Linked DNA regions of Homo sapiens. The protein of the gene in region 1 purifies or fractionates together with the protein of each later gene. This does not show direct contact. Each region holds a gene or a part of one and is shown in the gene's direction. Other genes may lie near its edges. The genes, in order: CLIC2 and CDO1.

The links.
Region 2: the proteins of CLIC2 (region 1) and CDO1 fractionate together in Homo sapiens (co-fractionation; one large-scale study listed by BioGRID). This does not show direct contact.

The regions. Positions count from the first base shown.
Region 1 is NC_000023.11:155,296,496-155,300,315, reverse strand, and holds part of CLIC2 (chloride intracellular channel protein 2), read left to right. Parts: intron 1-1,170; coding exon 1,171-1,280; intron 1,281-1,405; coding exon 1,406-1,531; intron 1,532-3,820. UniProt on the Homo sapiens protein: In the soluble state, catalyzes glutaredoxin-like thiol disulfide exchange reactions with reduced glutathione as electron donor. Displays weak glutathione peroxidase activity. Can insert into membranes and form chloride ion channels.
Region 2 is NC_000005.10:115,813,574-115,817,840, reverse strand, and holds the start of CDO1 (cysteine dioxygenase type 1), read left to right. Parts: upstream 1-1,181; 5' UTR 1,182-1,443; coding exon 1,444-1,613; exon of another isoform or gene 1,614-3,254; intron 3,255-3,356; exon of another isoform or gene 3,357-3,648; coding exon of another isoform or gene 3,649-3,755; intron 3,756-3,886; coding exon of another isoform or gene 3,887-3,943; intron 3,944-4,267. UniProt on the Homo sapiens protein: Catalyzes the oxidation of cysteine to cysteine sulfinic acid with addition of molecular dioxygen.

The DNA.
Region 1 (3,820 bases):
GAAATGCAAATCAAAACCACAATGAGATACCATCTCACTCCAGTTAGAATGGCAATCATTAAAAAGTCAGGAAACAACAGGTGCTGGAGAGGATGTAGAGAAATAGGAACACTTTTACACTGTTGGTGGGACTGTAAACTAGTTCAACCATTGTGGAAGTCAGTGTGGCGATTCCTCAGGGATCTAGAACTGGAAATACCATTTGACCCAGCCATCCCATTACTGGGTATATACCCAAAGAACTATAAATCATGCTGCTATAAAGACACATGCACACGTATGTTTATTGCGGCATTATTCACAATAGCAAAGACTTGGAACCAACCCAAATGTCCAACAATGATAGACTGGATTCAGAAAATGTGGCATATATACACCATGGAATACTATGCAGCCATAGAAAATGAGGAGTTCATGTCCTTTGTAGGGACATGGATGAAATTGGAAATCATCATTCTCAGTAAACTATCGCAAGAACAAAAAACCAAACACCGCATATTCTCACTCATAGGTGGGAATTGAACAATGAGATCACATGGACACAGGAAGGGGAATATCACACTCTGGGGACTGTTGTGGGGTGGGGGGAGGGGGGAGGGATAACATCAGGAGATATACCTAATGCTAGATGACGAGTTAGTGGGTGCAGCGCACCAGCATGGCACATGTATACATATGTAACTAACCTGCACAATGTGCACATGTACCCTAAAACTTAAAGTATAATAATAAAAAAAAAAGAAAGGAAATTTGGTAAGATCTATCAAAATGGGAAATGTGCATACATTTTACTGACCATTTTCATTTTAAAGATTAACCTTAAAGATATAATCTCAGAAGTGGAAGAAGCTATATGCCCAGAAATGTTTGTTTCTGAAGTGCTTAGAGTAGTAATAATTTTGGAATATCTTAAATGTCTATCAATAGGAAAATTATATAAATTCTGATAATATATAAAATTTATTATTATTATTATGTACCCATCACAGTTGTAACTTTACATATAATGAGATTATTTGCTTCCCTATATCTCTCTGTCCATAGATGATGGAGTACATGAGATTAAGAATGTCCATGTTTGTCTCTAGCAACTGGCTCATTTCCTATTAGGAACTAAATACATACTTATTGAACAAACAAATGAACTGAGGTCTCTCTTTATCTTAATAGGCTGGAAGTGATGGAGAGAGTATTGGAAACTGTCCCTTTTGCCAACGCCTTTTCATGATCCTCTGGCTTAAAGGAGTTAAATTTAATGTGACAACTGTTGACATGACCAGGTAAGAGAAATCAGGACATGTTAAATTCTAGGAATTGAGATTGGTAGATACCAATAAAATATTGGTGTTTATTTAATGTGTACTTTATCTAGAGACCTAACTCTGCTTATTTTTAATAATCATAGAAAGCCTGAAGAACTAAAGGACTTAGCCCCAGGTACCAATCCTCCGTTCCTGGTGTATAACAAGGAGTTGAAAACAGACTTCATTAAAATTGAGGAGTTTTTAGAACAAACCCTGGCTCCTCCAAGGTACAGCATTTACAAGATACTATTTTGCTGAAGATAATCTATTTTACTGGCTTGTTTATTGCAGATTTAGTATTCTTACCAATTTAAGTACTTTTGGATTTCTGGGCCTACATGTCAAATGACACACATGCATAAACATACCCCTCCAACTTCAAATACAAAAAGATGATATGTGTAATATTTCAAATAATTTTTAAAAGCTGCATAACATACATAACACAAGAAGGTAAGTTCTCTGTGCTCTAGAAATAGAGTAGGAACATATAGTGAGATGGGAGTGAGGGAATGGGATACTAACACTATGTAATTCATAAGGATTGGTCATGACTGGTCCTTAACACCACTGACGAAATGACAGAACATACCCAACACGAGGGCTAGTGGCCAGGACATAGACTTCAAGCAGTTAACCAGAGGCCAGAACTGTACTGCCTACACTTGAATGACAACCGCACATCTCTGTCTACCCAGGATAGGTCTAGAAACAAGAAGCATGCTGTATTAATTTTCTATTGCTGTGTAACAAATTACCACAAACTTAGTATCTTAAAACAACAGCTATTTATTATCTCACAGCTTCCATTGGTCAGTTGTCTGGGCATAGCCTGCTAAGGTCCTCTGCTCAGGGTATCAAAAAGTGGCATTCAAGGTGTTGGTCGGGAACACAGTTATCATATGGGGCCCAGGTGACTCTTCCATCTTCATTCAAGTTTTTGGCAGAATTCAGTTCCTTGCAGCTATATGACTGAGGTCTTAGGTTATTGGGTAGCTGTTTGTTGGGGTTGGGTTGGCATTCAATTACTAGAGGCTGCCCCTCTGTATAGGCATTTCGCAACATGGCTGATTGTTCTCTTCCTCTAAAACCTGCAGGAGAATGTCTCTCTGATGGTTCACCTTCTTTTTTTTTTTTTTTTTTTTTTTTTTGAGACCGGAGTCTCGCTCTGTCGCCCAGGCTGGAGGGCAGTGGCACATGTTGGCTCACTGCAAGCTCCGCCTCTCGGGTCTCGGGTTCACGCCATTCTCCTGCCTCAGCCTCCCGAGTAGCTGGGACTACAGATGCCCGCCACCACGCCCGGCTAATTTTTTTTTTTTTTTTTTGTAATTTTAGTAGAGATGAGGTTTCACCGTGTTAGCCAGGATGGTCTCAATCTCCTGACCTTGTGATCCACCGGCCTCGGCCTCCCAAAGTGCTGGGATTACAGGCGTGAGCCACTGCGCCTGGCCTGATGGTTCACTTTCTTTTAAATTTTTTTATCAGTACAAATTATGGGATACATATGAAATTCTATTATGTGTATGTAATGCATAGTGATAAAGTCAAGGTATCTACGGTGTCCATAACCCAAATACAATACATTTTTGTAACTATAGTCACCCTGCTCTTCTATCAAACATTGAATTTATTCCTTCTATCTTATTTATGTGTGTACTTTTTAACACACTTCTCTTCATCTTCCCTTCTCCTCCCAATCACCCTCCCCAGTCTCTGTTATCTCTCTTTCCATTCTCTATCTTCATGTGATCAACTTTTTTAACTCCCACATATAAGTGAGAACATGCTATTTTTGTCTTTTTGTGCCTGGCTTATTTCACTTGACATAACAACTCCAGTTCCATCCATGTTGTTCCAAATGACAGGATTTCATTCTCTTTTATGGCTGAATACTATTTCATTGTGTATGTATACCACACTTTCTTTATCCATTTATCTGTTGATGGACACTTAGATCGATTCCATACCTTGTCTATTGTGAATAATGCAATAATAAACATGAGAGTGCAGGTATCCCTTTGACATACTGATTTCTCGTGCTTTGGATAAATGCCAATTAGTGAGATTTTTGGATCTTATGGTAGTGCTACTTTTGGTTTTTTCAGAAATCTCCATGCTGTTTTCCATAGTGGCTATATTTATACTCCCAAAAACAGTGTATAAGAGTTCCTTTTTCTCCACATCCTTGCCAACGTCTGTTAATTTTTTTTTTGTCTTTTTAATAATAGCAATTCTGACTGAGGTGAGATGATATCTCATTTTGGTTTTGGTTTGCATTTCTCTGTTGATTAGTAAAGTTGAGCATTTCTTTATGTACATTTTGGCCATGCCCTTTGCCCATATTTTATGAGATTTTTTTTATTGTTGAGTTGTTTGATTTCCTTGTATATTCTGGATATTAGTCCCCTGTTGAAGTTTGCAAACATTTCCTCTCATTCAAAAGGTTGTCTCTTCACTCATTTCTTTTGCTGTGCAGAAGCTTTTTAGTTTACTTGAGTCCTATTTGTCTATTTTTG
Region 2 (4,267 bases), on another chromosome or scaffold:
TTTTAACAACACTGTTAGAATATAATGTAGCGAGTTTTACCAGAGATGTTTAAGACTACCTGGCACAAGTAAATTTCATTGTATACATGTATATACACGAGGGAGGGTGATCATAGTCTAGAAAAAAACAGGTCTTCAGAAGTCTAGAACTTTAATAACCTTAAATCCAAATTATTCCCTGCGTCCATCCATAATGAGAAGGAAGAAATCTACACTTGCATTTCTTCCACCTTTCACATCTTTCTCATTTAAATCCTACTGTACTTGATTTGTGTTGTTCCCAACGTACTAGGTGCTATGCATGACGTAGAAACGTGTTTCCTTATATGTATGTACTAGCAGGCTCCTTCAAGCACATGCCTAAGGTTGAAAGATTCAAATATAATTATAGCCTCTTAAATTATTGCGTCAGAGCCCGCCCTATCCCCTCAGAAAAAGCCCCCTTTTACACCATCAAATGAAATATCAGGTTATTTGCACTGGATATTTTTTAAAAGAAAATATTTGATTTTAAAATCAAAGAGTTCTTGGTTTTCCATCATTTCACTAATTGTCTTACTAGAGACCCGAGTCTCCTTTGTCAAAATATATTTCAGTACGCATTTTAAAAAATATGTGTGTGTGTATACTTAAATATATATATATATAAAGTCTTGGACTTATTTTCACCTAGCCTGGGGCATATCGTGGATAGTTTCAATCGACAAAACAGGCACTCTCTGGCCTAGGAGTGGAATCCATCCTCAATTTTCGCAGGCTCCTCACAATTCTCTATTTGGAAGAAGTGTCCCTCTCCTTCCCTTTTCTTTTCCTCCTTTACTCAGCGTCAGTCCCCGCAGCCATCTCCTCCGACCCTTTTTGTCTACGTCCCAGCGTCGCGAACCACAGCGGCGGAGGTGGAGCGGGGAGAGGCGTTAGGCCGGGCGGCTAAAACGCGCCGTTAAAGTGGGGGAGAGATTGCGCGGAGCCCACGCGATCCCTGGGACGCCGGAGACAACGGGGCTCTTGGGAAGGCGCGGAGCCCGGGGAAGCCGGGGATGTGCGCGTGAGCCGTGCCCGCAGGGTCTCCCCGCCTCCGCCACCTTTCTTGGGTGGCTCTCCGCCTCGTCCTCCCTCCGAGGGCCGTTGGTACATTCCTAGTGACTCCAAGCGCTTAAAAGGGGCCCGGGAGGATGAACCCCACAGATCTGAACCTGATTTGTGTGTGCACCGCGTCTCCAGCGATCCCGGATCCACTGCGCTGCCAGGGGCCTGGGGGTGGGTCTCTTGCTGTCTCTGCGACGACATCCTTACGTTTCGGCACTCTAATGCTGGGTTTGTGCGTGTGTGTCTGCTTAGCGGTCTAGCGGGCTGTTAGGCTCCCTCGCCCCCAGCTCCTTGGCTCGCTCAGCTCCTCCACCGCAGCCCAGCAGTGAGACGCGCGCGCAGCCAGCTCCCCACGAGATGGAACAGACCGAAGTGCTGAAGCCACGGACCCTGGCTGATCTGATCCGCATCCTGCACCAGCTCTTTGCCGGCGATGAGGTCAATGTAGAGGAGGTGCAGGCCATCATGGAAGCCTACGAGAGCGACCCCACCGAGTGGGCAATGTACGCCAAGTTCGACCAGTACAGGTGAGCGCGCTGCAGCTTCAATGCCAGGCGGCGCCCACTCGCCCCGTCTGAGGAGGAATGGACGTGGGGGACGCAGCCCAAAGTGACTGGCTCGGGAAGCTCGGGCCGCGCTGCGTCCGCCGCTCGCCCCCTCGCTGGCCAGCCGCGGGGCTGGCACGACTCGCTTGGGGCTCCGCGGCCACAGCGCAGGCGGAAGGTGGATCCTACTGGCCTTGCTGACCTCCGGCCGGGAACGGCGGACAGGCGCCGGGAAGGGAGGCCACCGCGCGTCTGCGAGATTTTCTGTTCTCTTCTCTCCCGCAAACCCCTCTGCTTCTAAACCACCAGTCCTCCTGCCCCTGGCCTCGGGAGCAATGCCCACACTCCCAAGCCATCGTTAACCCCGGGCGCGGAGATGCGGAGAGACCGCACTCAGGTTCGGGCCCTCCTGACACCTTAAGGAACCGTCTGGCCGGACTAGCAGAGGGTGCTCCCAGGGGAGCACTACATCAGCCATCGGGAGAAGTGTGTGATGTTGAAGAAGACAAGTCACCCGCGTCAGTTCTCCATCACTGCGCCTTCGGTCGCCTGCAACCGGGCACCTTATAGCAAGCATTTTTACTCATGTAAAATAGCGTCTTGTGGCCGTCAGCTGCCACTACGGAATTTCTGCTGTTCCCTTTCCCAAACCAATTTAACTAACTTCCCCGACTGTGGGTTTATTCAAATCCACTGCCAAGTTTCGCAGATTAAATATTCGACCGTCGTTTTTTTCAGCCCCCAAATGATCTGATTTATCTTATCCTTGCTTCTGACGATCTGTAATGTAAATTAAAGACCCCTACTTCCCAGATGTACTTGAGTGAGGTGCCCTGGTAAGCTGGCTTTTTTGCAGCCCCGGCTTGGTGATTAAGTCGAATCTCTCTACCAATCCTCCGGGGCCAGAGGTAAAATTTAATCACCCCGAAGTGTGAGAGGTTCTACTTTTTCTGAGCAGTTAGTGCGTCAGTCTTTGTGGTTTTTTGGGTTTAGGGTTAGGAGAAAGGGGTAAGTGAAAGAAAAGAATAAGGAAAGAAGTAAGTTTGTTTTTCTTGGGAGCAGGTTCTTTTAGTCACTCTTCAACATGTGGGATGTTTCGTAAAGTTTTGTTGGCATGGGCGGTTTCAACTGTATTTTAGGATTTGAAATAGAAAAAGTGAAGACCACTAAGGATCCCATTTTTCATATACAAGTGACTTGAGGAAATTCCTTTGGCTCCTATCAGCTTAGTTCATGGTAGAGCCCTTCTGTAGCCGTGAAAGCTAGCAGAGAGTCTAGCTTTTAAATTTTCTTGCATTTGCTCCAGGTAATTGAAGACTTGTTATGGGACAGGTACTCTTCCAGACACTTGACACATATGAGGAATGGCAGGCAATGAAGAAGTTGAATGACTTGCACTAGGTCTTCTATCGATAGCGGCTCCAGGCTCCCGGGGTTAGCATTGTTGTTCCAGAGCCTACACTCTAAACCACTGTTAAACCAGGACAGGTTGTAACAGTTTTTAATCTTTAATCTTTAGAACAAGTGTATTTTCAAGGACCTTGAACTAGTCTCGATTGACAAACTCTAAAGCTTTTGAAGTGCAACCAGCTGGGTTGATCGGTCTTTTCACAGATATCTGAGGTACAGCTCATTAACATAATGGATGTAGTCCCGAGGGGGCAGTTGGGGGAAGACAGGAGATGGGAGAGAAGTCAATTCTACAGTATTTTTTGCATTAAATAGGTGCCTAGCGCTGTGAAGGATTCTGTTCTCTGACTTTGGGAGGGCCAGTGCAGAAGAATCAAGACAGAATATGCTCCCGTGTGGGCCAGGCTGTGAATTCTTTGAAAGAAGCTGCAGAGAAGCAACAAAGATTATCCTAAGACTTCTGGAGGAAGAATTAGGATCCTTCTGCAGGAACTCAGTTTACTGTGAATTGAAGGTTGTGTACACAGCTTCTTGTTAGGTCATAAAGGCTACAAAGTAGGGAAAACTGAGGCTAAAAAGCACTTACTAAGTAACTCCCTCTAGGATCATGCTCTTCGGACACCTCGGGGTGGGGAGGAATGGGACAGGATGGAAGGGGCATGCTGGACAAGAGTTAACCGATGACGAAGGGAAAAAAAACTCCCAAAAAATGGAGTAAAGACCCCTTTTCTTTAACATGACAGTCTAAATGAATGTCATAATTATGAAACTTTGCTAACTAGATGCTGTCAACAGTACACCTTGGACCAATAGAAACTTTGACGTTGATTTTGCTTTTTTCACAGTCGTGGTCGTGGTTTGCAGTTTGTTGTTGGTGGTGGCAGTGGTGGTGGTTGGTTGTGGTGAGTGTGTCTGTGTGTATGTGTTTGCCAGTTACTGGTTTCTCCTAATTGTAAGAGGTTTAGAGGGTTCTTTACTTCACTAATGTAGTCTTCTTTGTTCTGGTAGTTAGATCAGCCCCCACGGTATTTGTGGAAGACTTTTCATTATAAGGGCTTTTGAATGTGGTTTGTGTCTAGGCTTTAGTAAAACTAAGAATTCTAGAACAGCTATTTAATGAAACCTTGTTTCTCAAGTCTTGATTTAGCTACAGGCAGAAAAAAGAAAAAAAAAAAAACAATAGCAACATTCTTGCCTCAACCAGTAATGCACTTTGGAAATACTTT